2 separate regions of the Homo sapiens genome follow, and region 1 is linked to region 2. A link means that fine-mapping ties the variant in region 2 to the expression of a gene that starts in the linked region. Tissue or cell type: whole blood. Region 2 holds a variant in brackets; the other region holds the start of a gene. All regions are shown on one strand. Distances are from middle to middle.

Region 1 (5,656 bases), 110 kb before region 2:
ATTTAAAAATCTTTTCTCTGTTTTTTCCTTTTGCTGGCCGTTTTCCTCCCCCAACCATACCGCCTTTTTTGTGTGTGGGGGGTAGACGGTTGGGTATTTAGCCGCTTCAGAGGCCTTGTTCCCATAATTTAGAGTTCCCCTTCGGATTTCGCCAAGTCAGAATGTGTGTCGGACCCAAAACGTGCTGCTTGCAGACCTAGCTTTTCAGGGCTGTTACCCCCCGAACTGGTTGGGTTCACCCGTGTGGTGGCCACCTGGCACAGTGTCAGAGGCTCAAGGTGCGGGAGGGGTCACCTCCTTATATGCACCTGCCAGCTGAGATTAGACTCTAAGTATGTTCTTCTGGGGGGGAAACCTATTTAGACCCACTGCATGTCTTAGGCAGCATTCCTCCCAGACACCCTCACGTGATTCTCAGTTGTCTGAGAATGCCCCGAAAAGCTGAGGGGAGGCAGGTGCTCTTATTTCTTCAGAGGGGAAGATTCTACACTCATGAGCTAGAGGGTTTGGAGTTGGTCAAATCCGATAAGGGAAAGGACCAAAACACACAAAAAAAACCCCAACAAGACAGAAACAAACAACAGAACAGGTAAGCAAAACTAACAATGATCACACAAAATACATGACTTCTTTTTTTTTTTTTTTTTTTTTTTTTGAGACGGAGTCTCGCTGTCGCCCAGGTTGGAGTGCAGTGGCGCGATCTCGGCTCACTGCAGGCTCCGCCTCCCGGGTTCACGCCATTCTCCTGCCTCAGCCTTTTGAGTAGCTGGGACTACAGGTGCCCGCCACCGCGCCCGGCTAATTTTTTGTATTTTTAGTAGAGATGGGGTTTCACCGTGTTAGCCAGGATGGTCTCGATCTCCTGACCTCGTGATCCGCCCACCTCGGCCTCCCAAAGTGCTGGGATTACAGGCGTGAGCCACCGCGCCCAGCCTATGACTTCTGAACGCTCTAAGTGTAAGCAGAAATAAACACCAGCTGGTTGTTAATGTTATCTTTAGTCATTTAAAAAGAATTTGCAAGACAAAATTCCAAATCAATTTTCTTACCTAGTGATGGGGCTCAAGCTGAAGACGGCTATCTGTCGATGCAGAAGCAGGCAGGCTTGCCTTCCTTGATGAAGCGAGTGGGAACTCCCAAAAAAGGAGTTTTTTAACAGCAAATAAACCTCAGACCCCCCACCGAAAAACGTTGGAAGATCAGGGATCCCTGGAGGAACAAGGTCCCAGATTTCAGCAATCATCCTACCAGTTTGGGCAATAAGGTGCCAAGCCAATACCGAGGATCAATAGGCGAACTGCTGCAGGCCGGGTTACCTTCACTGAGGATCTCTCAGTGCTTATCAATGTCAATCGAGAAAAATGACAAGTCTTAATCATTTCAGGAGGCTTATTTCCCAAAGTTAAGGACGCCCATGACACAGCCTCCGGAGATCCTGACGACGTGGGTCCAAGGTGGTCGGGGCACAGCTTGGTTGTATTCATTTTAGGGAGTCACGAGATATCAATCATATGTATAATAACAGGCCGGACAGGGCGCGGTGTCTCACGCCTGTAATCCCAGCTCTTTGGGAGACAGAGGCGGGCGGATCACGAGGTCAGGAGATTGAGACCATCCTGGCTAACATGGTGAAACCCGTCACTACTAAAAAATACAAAAAAAAAAAAAAAATTTGACGGGCGTGGCGGCGGGCGCCTGTAGTCCCAGCTACACGGGAGGCTGCGGTAGGAAAATGGCGTGAACCCGGGAGGCGGAGCTTGCAGTGAGCGGAGATGGTGCCACTGCACTCCAGGCTGGGCGACAGAGCGAGACTCCGTCTCAAAAACAAACCAACAAAAAAAAAACAGGCCGGGCGCGGTGGCTCATGCCTGTAAATCCCAGCACTCTGGGAGGCCGAGGCGGGCGGATCACGAGGTCAGGAGTTCAAGAACAGCCTGACCAACATGGTGAAACCCCGTCTCAACTAAAAATACAAAAATTAGCCGTGCGTGGTGGCACGCACCTGTAATCCCAGCTACTCAGGAGGCTGAGGCAGGAGAATTGCTTGAACCCGGGAGGCAGAGGTTGCAGTGATCTGAGATCACGCCACTGCATTCCAGCCTGGGCGACAGAGTGAGATTTCATCTGAAAAGAAAAAGAAAAAAAAAAAAAAAAAAAAAAAAAGAAGGACATTGGTTCTGTCCAGAAAGGCGGGGGCAACTTGGAACAGGGAGGGGGCTTCCAGGTCACAGGTAGGTGACAGACAAATGGTTGCAGTTTCTGGGTTTCTGATAAGCCTCTCCAAAGGAGGCTATCAATATGCATTTATCTCAGTGAGCAGAGGAATGACTTTGAATAGAATGGGAGGCAGGTTTGTCCTGAGCAGTTCCGAGCTTGTCTTTTCCCTTAGTTTAGTAATTTTGGGGCCCCAAGATTTTCCTTTCAGAAAAAAGAAAATGTGGTATATATACACAATGGAGTACTATTCAGCTCTAATAAAAGAATGAAACCCTATCATTTGCCACAACACGGATAAACCTGAGGATATCATGTAAGCAAAATAAGACACAGAAAGACAAATACCTCATGATCTCACTCATGTGGCATCTTTAAAACGAAGTTAATCATTAAGATATTTACCAGTTGTCTGAGGTATTGGGTTGAATTTTCTTTTTTTTTTTTTTTTTGAGACGCAGTCTCGCTCTGTTGCCAGGCAGAAGTGCAGTGGCGCGATCTCGGCTCACTGCAACCTCCGCCTCCCAGGTTCAAGCGATTCTCCTGCCTCGGCCTCCCGAGTAGCTGGGACGACAGGCACCCGCCATCACGCCCCGCTAATTTTTTGTATTTTTAGTTGAGACGGGGTTTCACCATGTTGGCCAGGATAGTCTCGATCTCCTGACCTCGTGATCCGCCCGCCTCGGCCTCCCAAAGTACTGGGATTAAAGGCGTGAGCCACTGCACCCTGCCTTCCAAATTAAAAACTTTTTAAAACCTCGTACCTCGCCGTGGGCGGCGACCGTCGCGGACTCGCCGGGAAGACGGCCCCACGGAGCCGGGAACACCGCCCGCTGTTCGTATGTCCGAGGTGACGCCCCGCTGTGGCGGGCTGGCGGAAGTGACGCGCTGCTGTGGCGCGCCGGCGGACGTGACGCCACTGTCGCTGCGACGATAAGGCCTGGCGTTATTGCTTAGAGGCGGCTACCTGGAGCCGGAAGCGCGGCTGCAGCAGGGCGAGGCTCCAGGTGGGGTCGGTTCCGCATCCAGCCTAGCGTGTCCACGATGCGGCTGGGCTCCGGGACTTTCGCTACCTGTTGCGTAGCGATCGAGGTGCTAGGGATCGCGGTCTTCCTTCGGGGATTCTTCCCGGCTCCCGTTCGTTCCTCTGCCAGAGCGGAACACGGAGCGGAGCCCCCAGCGCCCGAACCCTCGGCTGGTACGGACCCCTCCCCGGCGTCTCCGCTCCCCTGACCCCACATCCCCTAGAAGACCTTTTTTCTGAGCCTCGCTGCTCGGATTTCTTCTCGGCGCTCCCCGGTGGTCTCTTCCATTATGGTCCCCACCTCAGAAATTTTTTTTAACCGCTCCAGCGTCTCTTTTCTGTATTCTTACAACTTTGTGGCAACCACCTCTACTGGCCCCACTTCGACCTTCCTTCCTGATCACCACAAAGTAAGCTGTGTCCATACCTGGGATCCAGCCTCTCCACTTCTACTCGTCCAGAGCTCCCGCCCCTTTCCTGAGCAGCCTTTGGGTCACTCCCCGTTATAGGCGCCCTTTTTGCCCCCTAGCACACAACAGATAAGACCCCTGCCGATCCCCTCGCGTTTTGGTCTCTTATATTCCTCCAAGATGTTTTCCCTGCCTAGGGGCTAAGGCCTCTCTGCGTTAGGCCTCTTCCTAGGCTTCACCTACCCAGCCATATACAGCAAGTAAAGGCGCCCTGGTTCTGGACCACTTGCACACATCGCCAGCCGCTGACCATGTAAACGCAGTATGTAAACGCCCAGCCATCCCGTAGCTGCAGCTCTGCGTTTTAGGTCAAGCTCCCTAAATGTCCCATTCCAGGACCCTTACGTAGGGATTCTCCTACCCCAGTACTCTTCACCATACTGAGGATAATTCACTGCTTGCTACTGTGGGTCCCTAAGATTACTCCTGTTAACCCCCGTCCTTTCCCCCCAGCACTACCTACCAAGTACAAGTCGCCTCCTTTTGGGTTGGGTTATGTAGATATCGCAGGGTATGTGCTGGAGAAGTAGGTAGAAGCTAGATTGTGAAGGTGCTTGATGCTAAGGAAAGTTTAGAGTTCAATTTCCTTTTTTTTCTTTCAAACACTTAGGAGCCAGTTCTAACTGGACCACGCTGCCACCACCTCTCTTCAGTAAAGTTGTTATTGTTCTGATAGATGCCTTGAGAGATGATTTTGTGTTTGGGTCAAAGGGTGTGAAATTTATGCCCTACACAACTTACCTTGTGGAAAAAGGAGCATCTCACAGTTTTGTGGCTGAAGCAAAGCCACCTACAGTTACTATGCCTCGAATCAAGGTAAGTTTGCCTTAATGTTTTATGAATCATGGTTTGGCTGTTTTGAAGATTTAGAGGGGGTCTCTGTAGTCTTTCGCTTGGAGTTGCAATTTTAAGAAAGTGGAAATTTTGTGCTGTCAGTTGGCTGGGGCAATAGAATGTTGAAGGAGCCTCACACGGGATGGAACTGAGACCCATCATTTGTGCCCCATGTCAAGTAGCCAAAGCTCATGCTTCATGGCAAATATAAAAGATTTAGAGCAAGATCATCCAGGCTAACCTACCCCAAGATATGCCATTCTTGGTGACCTGCTTTCTTCTTTAATCGTCACTGGGTCATTTACAATCTTAGAAGGAGCCTTTAGAGTTAATCTAGTTCAGTCTCTAGACTTTATAGATAGGAAAGCAAACTCAGATAAGTTAAATGTGACTTCTCCAAAATTATCCACCAGTATACATAATGATCAAATCAGTATGTTCCGGCCTCAACAATTACCACTGTTTCCACCATATCCTTCAGGTGTCCAGCCTACTGACAGCAGCTTTGAAGTACATAGTGCATTTCCCAAGAACCGTGGGTAAAGAAAAAAGTAAGCCTTTATTGATTGGCTCAAAACTTTTGAGCAACGACTATGTGGTGATACTTCAATGGGTATGCAATTGGGGAAAAAATAGTATCTCTGCCTTCATGTAGCTTTTAGTCTTTAGATATACAGCCACTCAACAAAGGAGCATATGAAAACATGCAGTTGTAAAGTGTGGTTAATGCATGATGAGAAAGAACAGGATGTGATGATTAGTGGGTGAGAAAGCCTGGCTGAGGAAATTGCATTTAAACTGAGACTGGAAGGATGAATAAAGGTGGGGACAGAAAGGAGCAGAGGGGTTGAAGTGTGTGAGTGTATCGCATGTGAGCGTGGCATAAAGTCTCTGACGGAGCCTTAGCTGTGTTGTTGATCATGTGAAACATTATTTGGTGAGAAGGAGCTACTTATTGATTTAAGGCTTGGGGGCAGCCCCATTTGCAGATGCTTGGCAGATGTTCACTGGATGAAAGCAGTCTGAGACTGAAGGAAGCACAGTGCCATATCACTCACTGACTTTTTCCTTGAATTTCTTACTCTCTCTGCCGCATTTCAATGTGATGTGACTT
Region 2 (5,656 bases):
GTCTCCACACGCGCCTCTGCCTTGCTTCTGCTGAGACCTGGGCACTGGCAGCCGCCCTGCTGGGCGGATCAAGGCAGCGAAAGCATTTGTTCTCCAAAATGCTGATGGGAGATGGCTTGCCCCAGCCACCTTGGTTGTGAAAGAGGAATTTCAAAAGCAGTTGCCGAGGATCCCACTAGGCTTCAAGAACACGTGGCCTCTCTCAAATTCAAGGCGCCAAAGTGGGGGCAGACTGAAGGGACGTGAGGGAGCCCCACAGGACAGACGGGGGCAAGCGGCCCGGCCACTGGGGCTGCCTCTGCCCAGTCACCTCCCTCCTCCGGCCTTCGTTCTGCTCCTTTCTACCCAAGGTCGGCCACTCCCCTGCCCTATAAAAACCCACCCATGTCCCCGTCAAGGGCAGCAGGCACCCCAGGCTGCTAAGACGTGCACTCTGAGCGCCTTCCCAGCCCAGGGACTGTCCCCAAGGTCCAGCTGCCCAGGGGCCCTGAGCAGCCACTCCCACTTCTTGTCATCACAACCGCTTAAGGACCTGCAGATGAGGGCATCCTATCCCACCCCAGCCCTGGGGGCCATGTTCAGGCCAGGAGAAGCCACCAAACACTGCCACCATCTTCCTGGCTCCAGAGGCTCTGTGCCAACACCAGGCCCCCTTGGGCCCACCTAGCCCACAGACCTTGGAGGCAGGTGCACGAGCAGGTGCATCCATCCCATGGACTCTGATGGGCTGTCAGGAAGGACGCAGGTAGAGCCCAGGTCCTGCCCAGCAGGTGCAGTTCCAAGGCTGCCTCTGGGTGGCGTGCTTGGACCAGTCAGGTGCCCTGTGTTCACCTAACACCGCAGAACCGGCTTCCAGCTGCCAGGGCGATGCAAGCCTGTAGAAGCACAGATGCGGTCATTCCTCAGCCCTACCCAGGCCTTGAGAGTGGAGGGTCAGGGGCCTCTGCACAAAGGCTTTGATCCCCCAAATACACACAGACCCCCACTTTCCTTGTTAGTTTTCTAACACTTCCATAGCAAGCTACCACAGACTAGGTAGCTTCAGCAGCAGAAATGTGTCCTCTGACCATTCTGAAGGCTGAGAGTCTGGGATGAAGACGTTGACGGGTGTGGTCTCCGCAGAAGTCTCTCTCCTTGGTCTGCAGACAGCTGCTCTCTTGCTGCCTCTTCACATGGTCTTCCCTCCACGCGGGCTCACCCAGGGGACTCTGTGTGACCTGGTCTCCTCGTCTTATAGGAATGCCAGCCATGTTGAATTAGAGCCCCACATTCATGCCTCATTTCTACTTAATCACCTCTTTATTTTTAAAATTTATTTATTTATTTATTTTATTTTTTTTGAGACTGAGTCTCATTCTGTTGCCCAGGCTGCAGTGCAGTGGCATGATCTCAGCTCACTGCAACCTCCACCTTCCGGGTTCAAGCGATTCTTCTGCCTCAGCCTCCCGAGTAGCTGGGATTACAGGTGCACGCTATCACGCCCAACTGATTTTTTGTATTTTAGTAGAGACAGGGTTTCACCATGTTGGCTGGTCTTGAACTCCTGAGCTCAGGCAATCCGCCTGCCTCGGCCTCCCAAAGTGCTGGGATTACAGGCGCGAGCCACCGTACCCGGCCTCCCAAAGTGCTGCGATTACAGGTGCGGGCCACCGTACCCGGCCTAAATTACCTCTTTAAAGGTCTTACCTTCAAATAACGATCACGTCATGAGGTACTGGGGGCTGGGATTTCAACATATGAATTTTGTGGGACACAATTTCAATCCATAACACTGACGTAAGGTTCTTGCACTGTATGTGAAGTGGTATAATATGTAAATGTGACAATTCGTAGAGAAAGAAATGTCTTTTCAACCAGTGATGCTGGAACTATTGAATATGCATGTGCAAAAAGAAAAAGAGAGCCTCGATCTATACCCGGACCACATATAAAAATAACTCAAAATGTACTGCAGACGTAAATGTCACACCTAAGACTACACAGTTGCTAGAAGTAAACCTAAGCGAACATTTCTGTGATCTTGAGTGGACAAAGATTTTTTAGCTGTGATTTCAAAAGCATCATCTATAAAAACAATAAACCAGCCTTCATCAGCATTAAAAGCATCTGCTCTTGGGAAGACACTGTTAACAGAATAAAAAGGCAATTCATAGACTGGAAGAAAGTATTTTAAAATCACATATCTGATAAAGGATTTATGTCTGGAATATATAAAGAACAAAATGCATTACAGCACCCCCCACCACACGCTTGTCTGTGGTTCCACTTTGTGTGGTTTCAGTTACCAGCAGTAAACTGTGGTCGGAAAATATTACATGCAACAAGATATTTTGAGAGAGAGAGACAGAGCCCACATTCACGTAACTTTTATTACAGTTTACTGTTATAATTGTTCTATTTTATTATTATTTTTAGTCTCTTATTTTGCCTAGTTTGTACATTAAACTTTATCATAGGTATATATTTATAGGAAAAAATGTAGTATGTATAAAGTTCAGAGTTCAGTACTATCCATGGTTTCAAGCATTCATTGGGGGGTCTTGGAATGTATACCCAGCAGATAAGGAGAAACTGCTGTCATAAGTAAACAAACAATCCAATTTGTTTTGAGGTTTGGGTTTTTTTGTTTAGAGACAGGGTATCATTCTCTTGCCAAGGCTGGAGTGCAGTGACACCACCATAGCCCAGTGAAGCCGTAACATTCCAGGCTCAAGCAATTCACCCACTTCTGCTTCCCAAGTAGCTGGAACTACAGGTGTACACCATCGCACCCAGCTA[A/AT]TTTTTTTTTTTTTTTGCAGAGATGGGGTCTCACTATGTTGCCCAAGCTGGTCTCAAACTCCTGGGTTCAAATGATCCACCCTCCTTGGCCTCCCAAAGTGCTGGGATTACAGGCATGAACCACCATGTGCAGCCACAACCCAATTTTAAATAAGGACATAGATTTTAAAGGATGTGGGCCACTTTGTTTTATTGTGTTCACCTTTTTTTTTTTTTTTTTTTTTTTTTGAGACGGAGTCTCGCTCTGTCGCCCAGGCTGGAGTGCAGTGGCGCTATCTCAGCTCACTGCAAGCTCCGCCTCCCGGGTTCACGCCATTCTTCTGCCTCAGCCTCCCGAGTAGCTGGGACTACAGGCACCCGCCACCACGCCCGCCTAATTTTTTGTACTTTTAGTAGAGACGGGGTTTCACCGTGTTAGCCAGGGTGGTCTCAATCTCCTGACCTCGTGAGCTGCCCGTCTCGGCCTCCCAAAGTGCTGGGATTACAGGTGTGAGCCACCGCACCCGGCCTATTGTGTTCACTTTCCTGCACTTTGCAGATACCGCATGTTTGACTGTTGAAGGTCTGTGGCCGCCCCGCGTTGAGCAAGCCCACCTGTGCCGTGTTTCCAACGGCGTGTGCTCGCTCACATCTCTCAGTCACACGTTAGTAATTTTGCAATGTGTTGAACTTTATTATGATTGTATCTTTTGTGGTGGTCTGTGGTTGGTGATCTTTGGAGTTACTTGGTCATCGTTTTAGGGCTCCATGAACCACGCATATAAGAAAGTGAACTTAATTGATAAGTGCTGTGTGTGTTCTGACTGCTCCATGGACCAGCCATTCCTCCCTCTCTCCCTTTCCTTGGGCCTCGCTATTCCCTGAGAAACAGCAATTTGAAATTAGGCCAACCAATAACCCTACAGTGACCTCTAAGTCCTCAAGTGAATGGTCAATCACAAGCTAGACATGATTAGACTCAGTGAGAAAGGCATGTTGAAAGCCGAGACAGGTGGAAATCTAGGCTCGTGCACCAAGCACTGAGTCAACCTGTGAATGCAAAAAAGAAGTTCTTGAAGGAGATTAAAAGTGCTACCCCGTGGAACACGTGAATAAGGAAGCGAAACAGCCAAATCACTGAGAGGGAGAAAGTTTTAATGGCCTAGATGGAATGATCAAACCACCCACAACATTCCCTTAAGCCAGGGGTCCCCAACCCCCAGGCCACACAGCAGGAGGTGAGTGGCAGGAGAGTCAGATCAGCAGCAGCATTAGATTCTCAGAACCGTGCAAACCCTACTGTGAACTGCGCGTGCGAGGGATCGAGGTTGCGCACTCCTTGTGAGGATCTAACTATCGCCTGATGATCTGAGGTGGAACAGCTTCATCCCAAACCTTCCCCCCGACGCCTAGTCTGTGGAAAAATTGTCTTCCACAAAACCGGCCCTTGGTGCCAAGAAGGCTGGAGCCAAAGCCTTAAGCCAAAGCCTAATCCAGAGCAAGGCCCCGACTCTTAAATCCTGTGGAGGCTGAGAGAGGTGAGGAAGCTGCAGAAGAAAAAGTCTGAAGCAAACAGAGATGGGTTTGTGAGGTTTAAGGAAAGAAATCATCTCCATAACGTGAAAGTTCAAGGGAGGCAGCAGGTACTGATGGAGAAGCTGCAGTAAGTTACCCGGAACATCCAGCTGAGATCATGGATGAAGGTGGCCACGCTACACAGACCTTTTATGTAGACAACATAGTTTTCTGTTGGAAGAAGATGCCATCTGAGACTTTTATAGCTGGAGAGAAGCCAGTGCCTGGCGTCGAAGCTTCATAGGACAGGCTGAGCCTCTTGTGAGGGGCTAATGCAGCTGGTGGCCTCAGATTGAAGCCAGTGTTCATTCACCATTCAGAAAATCCTAGAGCCCTTAAGAATTATACCACATGCACTCTGCCTGCTCTAGAAATGGAGCAACAAGGCCTGGATGGCAGCACATGTGCTCCCGATGGTTTACGGAATCCATTAAGCCCACTATTGAGAGCTACTGCTCGGGAAAAACAAGATTCTTTTCATAATATTACTATGAGTCTGGGCATGATGGTTCACGCTTGTAATCCCAGAACTTTGGGAAACTGAGGCAGGAGGATCACTTGAGCCTAGGAATTTGAGACCAGCCTGAGCAACATAAGGAGACCCTATCTTTATAAAAAATTTTAAAATTAGCCAGGTATGGTAGCTTATGCCTGTGGGCTCAGCTACTCAGGAGGCTGAGGTGGGAGGATCACTTGAGCCAGGGAGGTCAAAGCTGCAGTCAGCCAGGATCACACCACTGCACTCCAGCCTTGGTGACAGTGACACCCTGTCTGAAAATACATACGTATATTCGTTGACAATGCACCTAGTTCCCAGAGCTCTAACAGAGACATACACAGAGTCATGCTGCTTTCGTGGCTGCTAAAACAACATCCATTCTGCAGCCCTTGGATCAAGGAGTTGTGTCGACTTCCAAGTCTTACTATTTAAGAAACACATTTCTGGCCGGGCATGATGGCTTACGCCTGTAATCCTAGCACTTTGGAAGTCCAAGGCGGGTGGATCACCTGAGGTCAGGAGTTCAAGACCAGCCTGACCAACATGGTGTGAAACCCTGTCTCTACTAAAAATACAAAAATTAGCCAAGCATGGTGGCAGGTGCCTGTGATCCCAGCTACTCAAGAGGCTGAGGCAGGAGAATCACTTGAACCCGGAAGGCAGAGGTTTCAGTGAGCACCACTGCACTCCAACCTGGGCGACAGAGCAAGACTTTGTCAAAAAAAAAAAAAAACATTTCTAAGGCTATAGCAACCATAGACAGTGATTCCTATGATGGATCTGGCTAAAGTTCACTGAAAACCTTCTGGAAAGGATTCACCATTC

Evidence for each region. PIP is the estimated chance that this variant, and not a neighbour inherited with it, causes the effect.
Region 1: PIGG starts here. The variant in region 2 is fine-mapped to the expression of PIGG in whole blood (INTERVAL, PIP above 0.99).

Annotation. Positions count from the first base shown.
Region 1 is chr4:496,078-501,733 of GRCh38, forward strand. It overlaps PIGG (phosphatidylinositol glycan anchor biosynthesis class G (EMM blood group)), which reads left to right and starts at 3,133. Exons shown (of 13, transcript NM_001127178.3): 1 at 3,133-3,412; 2 at 4,319-4,524. The coding sequence starts at 3,259. It overlaps ZNF721 (zinc finger protein 721), which reads right to left and starts at 3,079. Exons shown (of 3, transcript NM_133474.4): 1 at 2,979-3,079. RefSeq lists enhancers at 2,365-3,230, 2,794-3,273, 3,231-4,094.
Region 2 is chr4:602,043-607,698 of GRCh38, forward strand. All of the region lies in intron 1 of LOC124900162 (a long non-coding RNA gene), which reads left to right. Among named protein-coding and RNA genes, the nearest start is that of PDE6B, 21 kb to the right of the region's middle. The variant A/AT (reference allele first, on the strand shown) is at 2,779.